2 linked regions of the Homo sapiens genome follow. The protein of the gene in region 2 purifies or fractionates together with the protein of the main gene of each other region. This does not show direct contact. Each region holds a gene or a part of one and is shown on either strand. Other genes may lie near its edges.

Evidence for each region. Proteins that work in one complex are often made in the same cells at the same time.
Region 1: the proteins of ZNF577 (region 2) and DDI2 purify together in Homo sapiens (affinity purification with mass spectrometry; one large-scale study listed by BioGRID and IntAct). This does not show direct contact.

What each region holds. Positions count from the first base shown.
Region 1 is NC_000001.11:15,630,958-15,634,457, reverse strand, and holds part of DDI2 (protein DDI1 homolog 2), read right to left. Parts: intron 1,020-3,500; coding exon 893-1,019; intron 1-892. UniProt on the Homo sapiens protein: Aspartic protease that mediates the cleavage of NFE2L1/NRF1 at 'Leu-104', thereby promoting release of NFE2L1/NRF1 from the endoplasmic reticulum membrane.
Region 2 is NC_000019.10:51,874,452-51,877,951, forward strand, and holds part of ZNF577 (zinc finger protein 577), read right to left. Parts: intron 2,927-3,500; coding exon 2,831-2,926; intron 1-2,830. UniProt on the Homo sapiens protein: May be involved in transcriptional regulation.

The DNA.
Region 1 (3,500 bases), on a different chromosome or scaffold from region 2:
TCATTTAAGTAACCGGAATGATGACACGGTCCCTAAAAGGCCAAGCAGTCTAAGTGTAGTAAGTATCGTTGCTGTTATCTTCTTCTTAGTTATACTAAGTTCTTCACAATTAGCAACAAAAACTGACTTGAGGCAGGAAAAGCAGCTGTCCTTTTTTTCAGAGAATGACTGAACAGAATCTTGCTTGTGACTATCAGTGTGACTGAGGCCGGAACAGCGTCACTGTCCTTGCTTGAGCTCCATGCCCGACAATTCTGATTCATCAGATTTGGGAGAAGAGTCCAAGCATCTGCATTTTTAAAAGTTTCTCATGTGATTTTACTATAGCCCCAGGTGAGAACCACCGCATTACAGAAACTGAGAGCTGGAAACATGTCCAGCATTCAGTTTATCCACTGAGGCCAGTACAAGAAATGCAGCAGGAAAACAGACTTAGGACTACCAACGTTCCATCGGCGCAGAGCCCTCTCTAATCCAATCATGTTTAAGCCCTGGATTTAATCAGGACTTATACAATATGTCTAAAGAAAGAGAGTCAAATCAGCCCATGTAATATGCAACCAGCCTTGTGGTCTCACCAGATGGTGGCTTCTGCTCAGTCCGGGGGTCATTTATCTAAAGCTGTGTTATGATGCTCTGTCTGCTAGTCAGGGAGTCCTCCTTAAAATTTTAGAAAGAAAGTCATTAAACTAAGCACCTATATCTTTGTCATGTCAAATCGAAATGCATAGAAAATGAAAGAGGAGAGACTAACCTAAAAGACTGAGGTTACTATCTCAACTGCAAAACAGAGAAGCTACCTCCAAGCAGATGCCCAACCAATGTCAGATAACCTGCAGTCTGGGAAATCTGGAGTCTCTAAGTTTTGTTCTTTAGATGAACAGGTCTTTACCTTATATCTTCTTCTATCTTTGCCTGAGCTTCAAGGTCAAAGGGATCAGCAGAAAACAGACGAATCCTTTCTTGCTCTCTCCGGGCTCGGTCCTGCTGCTGCTCCACCAGGACTCTAGAAAATTTCTCTACAAAAATAAGGGAGAAAAATCTTAAATATCACTATATTTTCAACGTTTATCAGTACTTTTCCACACCAAACAATTTATCAAACTACATCTGTAAGAGATGCAGAGAGGATGCCTAAAGCTTATTTAAAATGAGCAATTACATTTACTTTCTGTTCTCTGAGTCAAGGCTATTTCATCATTTAAATTCAGTGTAAAGAAAGTATTTGTGGCTGGGTGTGGTAGCTCATGCCTATAATCTCGACACTTTGGGAGGCTGAGGTGGGAGGACCGTTTGAGCCTAGGAGTTCGAGACCAGCCTGGGCAACATAGCAAGACCTTGTCTCTACAAAAAATATAAAAATTAGTTGGGCGTGGTGGTGCATGCCTGTAGTCCCAGCTACTGTTGGATGGGGGTTCAAGGGTGGGGGGATGGCCTGAGCCCAGGAGGTCGAGGATGCAGTGAGCTGTGATCGCACCACACACTCCAGCCTGGGTGACATGGTGAGACCCTGTTTTTTTTTTTTTAAAAAAAAAAAAAAAAAAAGTATTTGCAAAAATTTTTTATAAGAAGTTATCTATCATATTGTTTCTACTCAGAGGTAACAACTTTCCAATTTAAAATGGTGGGGAGTGACCATGTGGCAGATCAATGTCTCCACTCCTCCATTCCTCATTGTTCTCATTATCCTACTACCTAGAAACAAAATACAGCATTATATAATCTCCTTTTCCTCTTCTAGTTTCATTTCTTTTATAACATGCCCTGCCTTAAGCCAGATACATTAAGTATAAACTATTTTTAGTCTACCTATATTTTGTGTGTGTTCTGATGAATTAATAGGCAGGAAAATTAGTAGAGAAAACACTGCTTGCTATAAGATGTATGTTACAACAAGAACCTATTTTGCAATTTCTTTTTTTTTGAGATGGAGTTTCGCTCTTGTTGCCCAGGCTGGGGAGCAATGGCGCAATCTTGGCTCACTACAACCTCCACCTCCCAGGTTCAAGTGATTCTCCTGCCTCAGCCTCCCAAGTAGCTGGGATTACAGGTACCTGCCACCACGTCCAGCTAATTTTTGTATTATTAGTAGAGACTGGGTTTCACCATGTTGGCCAGGCTGGTCTTGAACTCCTGACCTCAGGTGATCCACCGTGCCCGGCCTATTTTGCAATTTCTTAAATGGTGGTACATTTAAGTGTGCAAACTTAAATGCCCCATCATCACCATCTTTGGTGATTAGATATGCTGATATAAGAGATTAAAAGATATTATGACAATGGTTATCTGAACTACTAATGCACACAATACAGATGGATCTAAAAAGCATTAAGTTGAGTGAAAAGCCTAACACGAGCTGGGAGTGGTGGCTCACGCCTGTAATCTCAGTACTTTGGGAAGCCGAGACGGGTGGATCACGAGGTCAGGAGTTTGAGACCAGCCTGGCCAACATGGTGAAACCCAATCTCTACTAATAATACAAAAATTAGCCGGGTGTGGTGGTGCACGCCTGTAGTCCCAGCTACTTGGGACACTGAGGCGGGAGAATCGCTTGAACCCAGGAGGCGAAGGTTGCAGTGAGCAGAGATCGCGCCACTGCACTCCAGCCTGGGAGACAGAGTGAAACTCCGTCTCAAGAAAAAAAAAAACAAAGCCTAACACGAAAGAGCAGACACTCTATTATTCCATATACATGAAGTTTAAAAATACGGGAAACTAAACCATAAGATTATCAAAACAGTAGTAACCTATAAGGAGAGGAGATTGACTAGAAAGCAACACAGTGGAACTTTCTGGAGTGAGAGAAATGTCCTGTGTCTTGATTGGGGTTACAGGAGTTTGTCAAAACTCAAGGAATTGTATATTTAAAATCTGAGTACTTCGCTTAAGGTAAAGATTGCCAATTTAAAGACAGTCAATTGAGGAATGAGTCATTAAGTGTCTGTTATGTTTTTAGACTTAACCCAATTTAACTCATAAACCCAAGAGTAAAATGAGAGTAATTTACAGAGAAAACTCGATTCATAAAGATGGCTACAAGTTAGCTGGGTGCAACTGCTCATGCCTGTAATCCCAGCACTTTGGGAGGCCAAGGCAGGCAGACTGCTTGAGCCCAAGAATTCGAAAGCAGCCTGGACAACATGGCAAAACTCCATCTCTACAAAAAATACAAAAAATAACTTGGAGTGGACTGAGGTTATGGTGATTCCATTTTGCCATACAGGGCACTGAACCTTCCTGGCATCAGCTGGCATCAGCTGGCTTGTTGATGATCTCTTTAATTGAAGATCTAACTAAGGTTAAAATATCGGTACTGGCTGGGCATGGTGGCTCACACCTGTAATCCCAGCACTTTGGGAGGCCGAGGCAGGCGGATCACGAGGTCAGGAGATCGAGACCATCCTGGCTAACACGGTGAAACCCCGTCTCTAATAAAAATACAAAAAATTAGCCAGGTGTGGCAGCATGCGCCTGTAGTCCCAGCTACTTGGGAGGCTGAG
Region 2 (3,500 bases):
GTGAAAACCCAGAGGCAGAAAAAACTTAGGTGTGATAAAAAAAAAAAAATGTAAGAGAAGCTGGTTTACCCGGAATATCCTGAGCTTGAGTGAAGTAGAAATACAAAAGTTTGGCAAGGCTGGCAGGATTAAAAACATGAAGATTTTGGAGGAAGACTTTGTTAGAAACTGGAATTTATGCTAAGAACAATGGCAGTAAGCCACCAAACATTTTTTTGCCAAGAAAACATGTTCTGAATTGACAGTTCCAAAACATGACTGTCCTATGGAGAATGAATTGAAAAGATGAAATTATAGAAGGGAATATGCTGGAGGTTATGGCAGAATTCAGATGGCTTGATCAGGAATAATTACAATGGAGATGGAGAAATGTGAAAAAACAAGAACATAAGTATGGAGGAGGAAAAGATAGGATTCACTCTTAGAACACATGTTCCCAGCAGAAAAGCGAAGAATTGAGGATAACTGCTCAGTATGTGGCTTAAAACACCTATGTAGGTGCTGGTGCCATTTAATAAAATGAGGGTAAAAGAAGCCTCATACCAACCAGTAAAACACACACACAAAACAATATATGACCATTACTAAGTTAGTGCAGCATAGACACAAAGGAGATAAAAGTCAGAAAAGAGGGTGGCCAGGCGCAGTGCTTCACGTCTGTAGTCCCAGCACTTTGGGAGGTCGAGGTGGATGGGAGGAGTTCAAGACCAGTCTGGCCAACATGCTGAAACCCTGTCTCTACTAAAAATACAAAAAAAAGGATTAGCTAGGCGTGGTGGCAGGTGCCTGTAATCTCACCTACTCGGGAGGCTGAGGCAGGAGAATCCCTTGAACCTGGGTGGCAGAGGTTGCAGTGAGCCAAGATTGGGCCACTGCACTCCAACCTGGGCAACAAAAGCAAAACTCTGTCACAAAAAAAAAAAAAAAAAAAAAGAGAGAGCTCCAAATGTGCCCTGGCATAGTCAAAAACTAGTTCTTGGAAGTAAAACAAGAGCCGACAGCGAAAGAGGGCAGTATCTGGATGTAAAAATGCAACGTGATCAAATGCACAGATGTCAGTCCTCATGTTATTTGACATTATCTGTAGCATTCAATAAAATATATGTCTTCCTCCTCCTTGGAATAATTTTGTCACTTATTTCATGGACATCTTCTGACTCTCCCACCACAACCCTGATACTTTTTCTATGTGGCTGGGTTCTCCTCTTTTGAATCTCTGAATATATGTGGACCTCTTCTTTCTTCAAGCAACACTCACTCCTCATGTCTTCTCATCAAGTTCCAGTGCTTTGATGGCCCCTGCCCAGAGGGGAATGAAGCCATCACATCAAATGGAACTCACAGAAAAAGAGAAGTCAGTCAAACGTGCAGCAATGGAGGCGATAAGAACCTCTACTACCATGGCCTACTGTGAAGTGGGACTTCAAGAGTAGAGTGTTCAAAACAATAAAAATTAACAGGAGCAGCTGAGACATTCAGACGTAGAACAGAGTAAACCGAGAAGACTCAAGGCAACTCCAAGGTGACCAGGCACCGGAGTGATGAGCAATACAGCAGAACCTAAATATAATGCACAGGGAGGGAAAGGATTTTCCAGGAGGAAAGAGAATCACAGTTTCTAACCCTGAAGCTGAGGGAAGAAGAATTTCACAGAATACTCGTCCAGGGTGCTGGCAAAATATAGAATAAGAAGGCAGGTGAGATTACAGAAAAGGAGATATCTGCATGAAGCTATTTGTCAGAAGACACAGCTGAAATCTTTAGTATATGTGAGTATACTACATGATGGTAGAAACAACTGGGAGAAAGGAGGATTCTGGTTTCACATCCTGGAAGAAGGAAATATTCGGAGAGCTGTCCTGGTGGCTGGCGACACGCAGCGGGTTAGAGTGCAGATGAGACGTTAGTAGCAGACATGCTACTTTGCGAGTCTCCAGCAGGGGCCAGAGAGCTCAGGCCCTGAGAGTGAATTAAACTTCTACCAGGAGAATCAGCAGAAGATAAAAAAAAAAAACAGAAGCTGGAAAGGCGGGGAGCAGTGGGTGAGTAAGTCGACAGAGATGCCCCAAGAGACATGGTGTGGAGGCATTGACGTGAGCTAAGGTGAGGTGATTTTCAGTGAAGGAAATCAGGCCTTTCCAGAGGGGCCGGGATACACTTTTAAGCGACAGAAGTGCTAAAAGTAATGCAATCCAGCCAGGCGCAGTGGCTCATGCCTGAAATCCCAGCACTTTGGGAGGCCAAGGTGGGTGGTTCATGAGGTCAGGAGTTTGAGACCAGCCTGGCCAATGTAGTGAAAACTCGTCTCTACAAAAAATACAAAAAAATTAGCCGGGCCTGGTGGCCGGCACCTGTAATCCCAGCTACTCGGGAGGCTGAGGCAGGAGAATCACTTAAACCTGGGAGGTGGAGGTTGCAGTGAGCCAAGATCACATCACTGCACTCCAGCCCAGCCACAGTGCGAGACTCCGTCTCAAAAAAAAAAAAAAAAAGGCAACATAATCCAGATGGGTTACGAGGGGAATTTCAAAGCAAGTAAGGAAGGGGCAAAAGTCAGGAGCAGGCTGGGAAGAATGGAACCAGGTAAGAATTCAAGGTCTTCGATGACATGGACTGAAATCAGATCCAGAAAATAGAAGAAAGGAAGACATTATCCTTTGAGAGCCGGCTCTATTAGGGATGGACACAGATGCAGAAAGGCTGATTAGGTTTCTGGGCCACCAACTACTGTGAAGTCCTCTAAAGAACACTTTAAAAGCATCAACCCTTCTCCGACCAGCTGGGATTTGCATGCCATTTCTCCCCATTTTCTTAGTTTTCACTCACTTACCTGGACAGATTTGACTGTGGGCTGCTCCTTCTGCTATCCCTGGGGGTTCTCCTTGCTCCAACTTGAAGAGCGAATCTGGCTTGGTGCCTCGATACCCTGTAAATGGGAGATCACTGAACACTTGGCACGTGTGCTTGGGGAATGGATGAAGATGGAGAGGGTTATGTCTCAGGAACCACAGCATTTGCACTTTGATAAAGCAAAACTCTTTCACTCAGGAAAAGAGCACAACCACTTCGTGCCAGGGAGGAAAATAACAGTCTGCGTGACACACCCATACCCATTAGGATGGCTACTATCAAAAAAACAAACAGACAAACAAAAACAGAAAATAACAATTGTTGGCAAAGATGTGGAGAAACTGGGACCCTGTGTACTCTTGGTGGGAATGTAAAATGGTACTGACATTGTGGAAAACTGTTCCTCAAAAAATTAACAATGGAATGACCATATCACCCAGCAATTCCACTTCTGGGTATATACCCCAAAGAATGGAAAGCAGGGTCTCAAAGAGATTATTTGTACACCCATATTCATAGCAACATGATTCACAAGCGCTAAAACATGGAAGCAACCCAGTGTTCCTTAACAGATAAGTGGATAAGCAAAAGGTGGTATATATATATACAAAAGAATATTATTCAGCCTTAAAAAGGAAACTCTGGCACAT